2 separate regions of the Homo sapiens genome follow, and region 1 is linked to region 2. Evidence: fine-mapped expression QTL. A gene starts in region 2. The other region holds a variant in brackets. All regions are shown on one strand. Distances are from middle to middle. Region 1 overlaps MAST2 (microtubule associated serine/threonine kinase 2). Region 2 holds the start of MKNK1 (MAPK interacting serine/threonine kinase 1).

Region 1 (4,257 bases), 670 kb after region 2:
AGAAGGATACCCTTTCCAGCGAATTCTGCTAGAAAAATTGGACAGTCACACACACACATTTGACCTCATACCATACATAAATATTAACTCAAATGGATCATAAACCTAAATTTAGGAGTAGAAAATGTAAAACTTCTGGAAGAAAATGGAAAAAAAAAACAGCTTGGGTTAGGCAAGTAAGTTCTTAGATACCAAAAGCATGATCAATAAAAAATAAAAAATTATCAATTTTTGCATTTCAAACGACACCATCCAAATACATGGAAAGAACCACCATAGACAGGGAGAAAATAATTGCAAATCATATAGCTAATAAAGGGCTTGTATCTAGAACATACAAAGAACTCAAGGCTCAATATTTAAAAAAAAAACGAACAGATTTTTTAAATGAACAAAAATATTTGATCAGACATTCCACCAAAAAAGATATACAAATGGCTAACAATGAGATAAGATGCTCAGATCATTACCCATTAGGGAAATGTAAATTAAAACCACAGTGATATACTACACACCACTAGAATGGTTAAAATCAAGAAGAGAGAGTAATTAGTGCTGGTGAGAATGTTAAAAAATAAACTCTGTGAATGTGAAATGATGCAGTCCACTGCAGAAAACAGTTTGGTGTTTTTTAAAAAGGTAAACATAGTTTGGGCGCAGTGGCTGACACCTGTAATCTTGGCACTTTGGGAGGCCAAGACAGGAGAATCACTTGAGCCCAGGAGTTCAAGACCAGTGTAGGCAACATGGTGAGACCTCATCTCTACAAATAAAAAAATAATAATTAGCTGGGTATGGTGGTGTGCACCTGTGGTCCCAGTCACTTGGGAGGCTGAGGCAGGAGGATTCCCTGAGCCCAGGAGATTGAGGCTGCAATGAGCCATGATCACACCACCACACTCCAACCTGGATGACAGAGTGAGACTCCATCTCCAAGAAAAAAGAAAAGTAAACATAAACTTACCATACAACACAATTCTCTGACTCCCAAAAGAAATAAAAACATATGTCCACACAAAGATATGCATGGAAATGTACACAGCACCATTAATGTGATACTCCCAAACTGCAAACAATATAAATGTCCATCAACTGGTGAATGGACTAACAAAATATGGTCTATCCAATAATAAAACATTATTCAACAATAGAAAGGAATGAATATGCTACATGTATAAAGTTCAAAAACATTATGTTAAGTGAAAGAAACCAGAAACAAAAAACTACATTTAGCAGCACATAATACAGAACCAAAAAGCAGATGAGTTATTGCTTAGAGCTAGGAATTAGAAGAGTAGGATTAACTACAGGTGGGTACAAGTAAACTTTCTGAGTGACAGAAGTGTTCTAAATTTGGATTATGGTGACAATACATAATTATATAAATTTAGTAAAAACCATTGAATCCCTTACACTGAAGAGATTACAATAGGCAATTAAATTTAGTAAAAAACCATTGAATCGCTTACGTTGAATTGCTTACAATGGGTAATTTTTTTTTTTTTTTTTTTTTTTTTTTTTTTGAGATGGAGTTTCACTCTGTCTCCCAGGCTGGAGTACAGTGGTGTGATCTCGGCTCACTGCAACCTCCACCTCCCGGGTTCAAGTGATTTTCCTGACTCAGCCTCCCAAGTAGCTGGGATTACAGGCACGCGACACTACACCCGGCTAATTTTTTTGTATTTTTAGTAGAGACGGGGCTTCACCACGTTGGCCAGGCTGGTCTCGAACCCCTGACCTGAGGTGATCCACCTGCCTCGGCCTCCCAAAGTGCTAGGATTACAGGCGTAAGCCACCGTACCCAACCACAATGGGCATATTTTATACTTTGTAAATTTTGTCTCAGCCAGGCATGGTGGCACACTCCTGTAGTCCTTGCTACTTGGGAAGCTGAGGTGGGAGGAT[C/T]GCTTGGGCCCAGGAGTTTGAGATCAGCCTGAGCAACAGAGAGATCCCATTTCTAGAAAAAAAAAGTAATGAACAAGCAAGTAAATAAATAAAATTTTAAAATGAAAATAAAAGTGACTGTAATTAAAAAAAAAAGCTGCCCATGGTGGTGCATGCCTTTAGTCTCAGCTACTCAGGAGGCTGAAGTGGAAGGATCACTTGAGCCCAGGGGTTTAGGATCACCCTGGGCAACGTAGTGAGATCTCATTTCTAGAAAGAAAATAAATAAACAAACAAATAATATTAGAATAAATAAAAACAAAAGTGACTGGAGAAAAAAAAAAAAAAGCCCAGGCATGGTGGTATAATGCCTTTAGATCCAGCTACTCAGGAGGCCAGGTGGAAGGACTGCTTGAGCCTAGGAGTTTGAGGCCAGCCTGGACAACAAAGAGAGGACTCATCTCTAAAAAATAAAGAAACTTAAAAAAACTCAAGTCAGATGTTTCAAAATGTGCAGGCCCCTGAGACTGAATCTGAGGTACTTAGGGGGCTTTAGAATCCTCCTTCCTCTCCTTCTTTCCTGAATAATTCAGTCTAGAGGCCACAAGATGATGATGATGATGGTGGCCATGTGGCTGGGTTGGGGTTGAGGTACCTGGCCTGGGATGTCAGAGACTGATGGGGATAAGGAAGTTGTCTGCTTGAAGAGAACAGTGGTGCCAGTCTTTCATGGGGTATTGGAGACCCAGTGAAGTGAGAAGGGCATACACACAGAAGGCTGGTGGTTACAAAAGGAGATTAGTTACACAGAGGAAAAAATGATCAGACAATCAAGTACCTCAACAAACTAAGCATCAAAGGAACATACCTCAAAATAATAAGAGCCGTCTATGACAAACCTGCAGGTAACATCATGCTGGGCAAAAAACACGGTCCCCTTGAGAACTGGAACAAAACAAGAATGCCCACTCTCACCACTCCTATTCCACATAGGAAGTCCTAGCCAGAGCAATTAGGCAAGAGAAAGAAACAAAAGGCAAACTCTCTCTCTTCACAGACAATTACCATTCTATATACCTAGAAAACCCCACAGCCTCTGCCCAAAGGTTCCTAGATCTGATAAACTTCAGCAAAGTTTCAGGATACAAAATCAACATACAAAAATCAGTAGTGATTCTACACTCCAATGACGTCCAAGCTGAGGGTCAAATCCAGAATGAAATCCCAATGACAATAACCACATAACGAATAAAATACCTAAGAATATGGCTAAAGAGGGAGGTGAAAGATCTCTACAACAAGAATTAAAAAACACTGCTGAAAGAAGTCAGAAATGACACAAACAAATGGGAAACTATGCCATGCTCACAGATAGGAAGAATTAATATTGTTAAAATGGCCATACAGCCCAAAGCAATTTACAGATTCAATGTTATTCCTCTCAAACTACCAACGACGTTTTTCACAGAGTTAGAGAAAACTATTCTAAAAATCATATGGGACCAAAAAAGAGCCCAAATAGCCAAGGCAATCTGAAGCAGAAGCAAAAAGAACAATTCCAGAGGCATTATACTACCTAATTTCAAACTATACCACAAGGCTACAGTAACCAAAACAGCATAGTACTGGTACAAAACCAGACAAACAGACCAATAGAAAAGGTTAGAGAATCCAGAAACAAAGCCACACATCTACAACCTTCTGATCTTTGACAAAGTGGACAAAAGCAATGCAAAAAGGAATCCCTATTCAATAAATGGTGCTGGGATAACTGGCTAGCCGTATGCAGAATGTTGAAACTAGACCCCTTCCTTTCACCATATACAAAAATCAACTCAAGATGATCAAAGGCTTACAGGTAAAACCTAAAACTATAACAACCCTAGTAGAAACCCTAAAATATACCACTCTGGACATAGGCCCTGGAAGACTTCATGATGAAGACACCAAAAGCAATTGCAACAGAAACAAAAATTGACAAATGGGACCTAATTAGACTAAAGAGCTTCTGCACAGCAAAATAAATTATCAACAGAGTAAACAGACAACCTAGAGAATGGGAGAAAATATTTGCAAAATATACATCTGACAAAGGTCTAATATCCAGAATCTACAAAAAACCTTAACTGAACAAGCAAAAAACAAATAACCCCATTAAAAAATAGGCAAAAGACATGAACAGACACTCCTCAGAAGACACACAAGCAGCCAACAAACACGACAACATGCTCCACATCGCTAATCATCTGAGAAATGCAAATCAAAACCACAAGGAGATACCATTTTACACTAACCAGAATGGTTATTAATAAAAAGCCAAAAAATAATGGATGCTGGCGAGACTGCAGACAAAAGGAAATTCTTGTACATTAT
Region 2 (4,257 bases):
TGGGCCTGACTCCTGAGCTTACTCCCCAGTAGACATCTGCATCTATTGGCTCAGGTCTTGCTGTCATTCCACTGCCCCAACTCACAAGCTGCCTGGGCAGGAATTAAAAAGCAGCTTGGTTCTTAAGAGTCAACAAAGGCCCATCTAGAGCTCTTCCCTCTTCCTGCAAAGGAGCCAGCCTGGCTTTGTGCAGAGGCTCTCCTGGGAGGCAAAGGCATAGGTTGTAGCCCCAGCCCAGCTCCTGAAGTTCCATTGCAAGCCCATTCCCCCTCTAGACCCCAACCCTTCATCTATTTTGTTATCAGTGATGGGAGTGAAGGACTGATTGATCTCAGCTCCTTCATTATATAGTCTATGAATCATTCACAGTCATCATAACAGCTAATGTTCATTATGTGTCAGGTACACTTCTAAGTGCTTGACATATAATAGCTTGTTGAATCAAGTGTGTCTTTGGCCAGCTGCCTTGCTTCCCTTCCAGCCCCCAATATCCCTGCCTTTAGTCACTCCTCTAGAATCTGGAAGGCCCTCCATTCTGCTGCCTCTTCCTCTGGCTCACCACAGGAGGCCCAATCCCAGCATTCTAAAAGGGTGCTATTTGCACACCTCCTATAACAGATCGCTCACTACCTCCTCTGTCATTGGACAGCTCAGACTGTTACAAGTCCCATGCTTTGGGTTCATGGTCATTTTGAAATATGACCATGGCAGTGAGAGTAGATTTATCTTAGAACTGTGTGACCCAAGACCTGCACCTTACATGAGAATATCTGTAAATACATTAGGAAGCTGACACAAAATTGCTTTGAGAGATTCACAGAGGGATGCTTAAAGAAGAATAGACAGAAAGGAAGAGAAGGGGAAAAGAAAGAGATAGGGCCTCAATGATGCAGATAAAAGAGCACACTCCCATGGGGCAAAACCTAGTAACAAAGGGTCCTGGGAGGTAGAGTGGCAGCTTGGTTGAGAAGTCAGGCTGGGCTTTATTTTCCTGTTGGCTCAAGGTCCATAACAAAGCTGGGCATAGTGGCTCTTCCCTGTAATCCCAGCACTTTGGGAGGCCAAGGTGGGAGGATCATTGAGCTCAGGAGTTCGAGACCAGCCTGGGCAACATGGCAAAACCCTGCCTCTAAAAAAATTCAAAAATTAGCCAGTCATGGTAGTGCATGCCTGTAATCCCAGCTACTCAGGAGGCTGAAGCAGGAGGATCACTTGAGCCCAAGCAGAGGTTGCAGTGAGCAAAGCTGGTGCCACTGCACTCCAGCCTGGGGAACACAGTGAGACCTTGTCTCAGAAAAAAAAAAAGAAAAAAAATTCCAAAACAATATTTGGAGCAGGGACCTAGGTAGTAAGCCATCCTCTCCAGCCTGGGGCAGAGCATCCACCTATTGAGTAAAGGATGCCGCATCACCCTCGGCTCCCATAAACACTGCAGCCTCTGAGGTTTCCTGTTGCCTCTCCTCCCTACCCCACAGCAAGCTGTGGAATATGTGGTGAAATAAGCCACAGTCATGACTAGAGCTCCACCTGCTTTGGGGGAGCCCTCCTTCCTCTGAGCACCCCCAGAGCCCTCAAAGATGTTAACTGAATTTGATTGCCATGTGAGGGACATAGCAACTTTGAGAACCTGGAACATAGGTCCTGAATCTCTTGGGCTATTGCCACAGGCAACAGGGAAGGGAACAGGCCAGCAGGGCCTCTGAAGACTTGAAGCTTGGATCGGCCTCCACGGAAGGTAATGAGTGGGAGAAGTCAGGATACATCGGGGCCCTCAGGTTGGACCGCAGGATTCCAGAAGGGAATGAACACAGAAGCTTGATCTTCCGCCTCTCCGGCCTTCACCCAGATTGGGAAATCTAGCAAAGTCCTGAATGTTCACTAATATTCCCAATCTCCTTCCATCATACAGATGAAAAGACAGCCCCGACAAGACAGGGAACAAATGTTTGTCAGGTGGATGATGGGAAGCAAGTCCCTGGGGCTCTTTAACTAGCTTGGCTTACCAAATCCTCACGATAATCCTGAGACAGGCAGGGAAGGGATGTTCACCTCCATCACTCGGAGTCAGCGCCTGAATTAAATCCCAGTCCACACTCTCATCCTTTCTCATCGCAGCTGCAGACTTGGGAAGGGGATGTGGGGAGACTGGTTGAGGCATTAACCTATTTACAGTTGTTTTTCCCCAAGAAATGAACTTTTAAAAGTTTTAAAAATTTTGAAATACTGGGGATAATGTTGTACTCAAGGAGAAACTCTTATGGTGAAATTCTAGGCACTCAGACTTTTAAAGAAATTGTACAGAATTGGCCCCCGTTTTAGAAAAGACTAGCAGCATTTCCCCACATATAAAAGGCATTTTAAAATTCCTTCCTGGCCTGCAGAAGCTCTCAGTACATGTTAATTACACCTGTCGCGCCCGGCCTCCTACCTTCCCGGGCTTCTCCACCCTCCATTCGGAAAAGAAAGCGCCGGAGGAGCTAAGCCCCACCCGCTTGCCAGCAATCTCCCCTCTCCCCGCCTCTTCCCTGTCACGCCTGCGCAGTTCGCTCAGCTCGAGCCCCCTGCCCTCAGGCGGCCCTGGGTAGCCATCAGGGCGCAGGCGCAGCTCCGCCCCCTCACCCTCCTCTCTGATCGGGCCCACCCCCTGGATCTAGCACCGCCTCTTCCGCGTTCTCGGAGGAGCGATCTGCAGGTAGGGGTGCGCGCGACCGCTCCCCGGCGGGAGCCAGCGAAGGTAAAAGCGAGACCTGCGAGGTATTCCTCCGAGCTAAATGGGGCCGGGGTCTGTGAGTGAGCTCGTGTGCCCGGAAGGGGGCAGTCAGGGCCTTCACGGCTGCCCGAGGTCACGACGCGATTCAGCTGCGGAGGGACAGCCTAAGGGGACGCTTTTCAGGACTGTCCCGAGCTGTCTGCGACCTCTGTGCCTGGGGTCGGGGCGTGGCCGGTGTCCGAGATGGCGCTTACTCTGTGGCCCGTTTGAGACTCAGTCTCTCCCAGGGATCAGGACCGAGGCTATGGCTGGGCGCAGGGCTCAGGCAGTCCAGTATCATGAATAGTTTTTCACGTGAGGAATTTGTGAAATCTGTGTACTGCGTTATTTTTAAGTTAATTGTTTTCATTTATTTTCAGTATTTAAAGGCTCCTGCCTGTGTGGATGGCTGTCCACAGGGAAAGGTAATAAGAGTGTCAGGTGCACCCTGTCTTCTAGAGAGCTCCAAGCTCCCTGACAGTGGCAGATCAGAGGCAGGCAGGCTCACAGGAATGAAGTGTTGTTAGAAGTGCTCAACTTCAGGGTCAGGGAGTCCTGGGTTTAGATCTCATCTCTTCCACCTCTTAGCTGTGTGTCCTGGGGCAAGTCTGCTTCCCCTCCCAGAGCTTCACTTTCTTCCCTAGGAAATGGCCATAATAGGGTCATTGTGAAGGGTGAATAGGATTATATGGAAGTCACCTAGTATGGCGCCTGTCATGTAATGGGTGCTGAATACATGGTAGCTGTGATTTCTAGGAGCTTGGTCATTTTGGATTGGGGTACTTTAGAAAGGCTCTGAGAGAAGAGTTGTTGTGACCTGGGCCTTGAAGCCTCAGTGGGATTTACAGATGGAACTGACCCTGCAGAATGGGAAGGGCACCACTGCCCATGCGCCAGGCACATGCTGGACAGTAGGTGTAATGTCTCACTGGATCACCACCCATCAGCCAGGTGCTTTCAGCCCACTCTCCTTAGCTTCAGCCCTTCATTAGAGGGCTGGGCTGGAAGTGATGTGAAGAGGAAATCCAGGGTTGGGTTTTATATGGAACTGAGCCAGCTAGAGGCTTTGGTGCCCCCTCTGCCCATCTGCTCCCACCTCAACACTTCTCTCTCTGTAATCCAGAGAGTTGGTTAGGAGTCCTGTTACTCTGGTATTTTGCAGATGTTGACAGTTGTGGGGGATGGCAACTCAGATTGCATGAAGCGAAGCCATGGGAGAGGGAAGCTCTGTGAACAGGAGCTGTCAGAGCCCAGCACGTGCTTAGAAAGTGCATGTGGTCTCCTGTAATGTGGTCCCAGAGTAATTGAATTACTTAGTTCCTTTTGCATCCTCTTCATGGGTGCCCTTGTGCTCTTCCTGAGACACTACTCGGAAACCTTGGTGGGCATCATTGCCTACTATATAGAGCAGTGGTGTCCAATCTTTTGGCTTCCCTGGGCCACATTGGAAGAAGAAGAACCATCTTGGGCCACACATAAAATACACTAACATTAACAATAGCTGATGA

Evidence for each region. PIP is the estimated chance that this variant, and not a neighbour inherited with it, causes the effect. A credible set is the group of variants that fine-mapping cannot tell apart.
Region 1: its variant is the best candidate, but not a certain one, in a credible set for the expression of MKNK1 in Th1/17 cells (Schmiedel 2018, PIP 0.84).

Annotation. Positions count from the first base shown.
Region 1 is chr1:45,935,018-45,939,274 of GRCh38, reverse strand. All of the region lies in intron 4 of MAST2 (microtubule associated serine/threonine kinase 2), which reads right to left. Among named protein-coding and RNA genes, the nearest start is that of MAST2, 130 kb to the right of the region's middle. The variant C/T (reference allele first, on the strand shown) is at 1,906.
Region 2 is chr1:46,602,662-46,606,918 of GRCh38, reverse strand. It overlaps MKNK1 (MAPK interacting serine/threonine kinase 1), which reads left to right and starts at 2,651. Exons shown (of 13, transcript NM_001135553.4): 1 at 2,651-2,734. RefSeq lists a silencer at 2,470-2,689 and enhancers at 3,020-3,069, 2,837-3,337.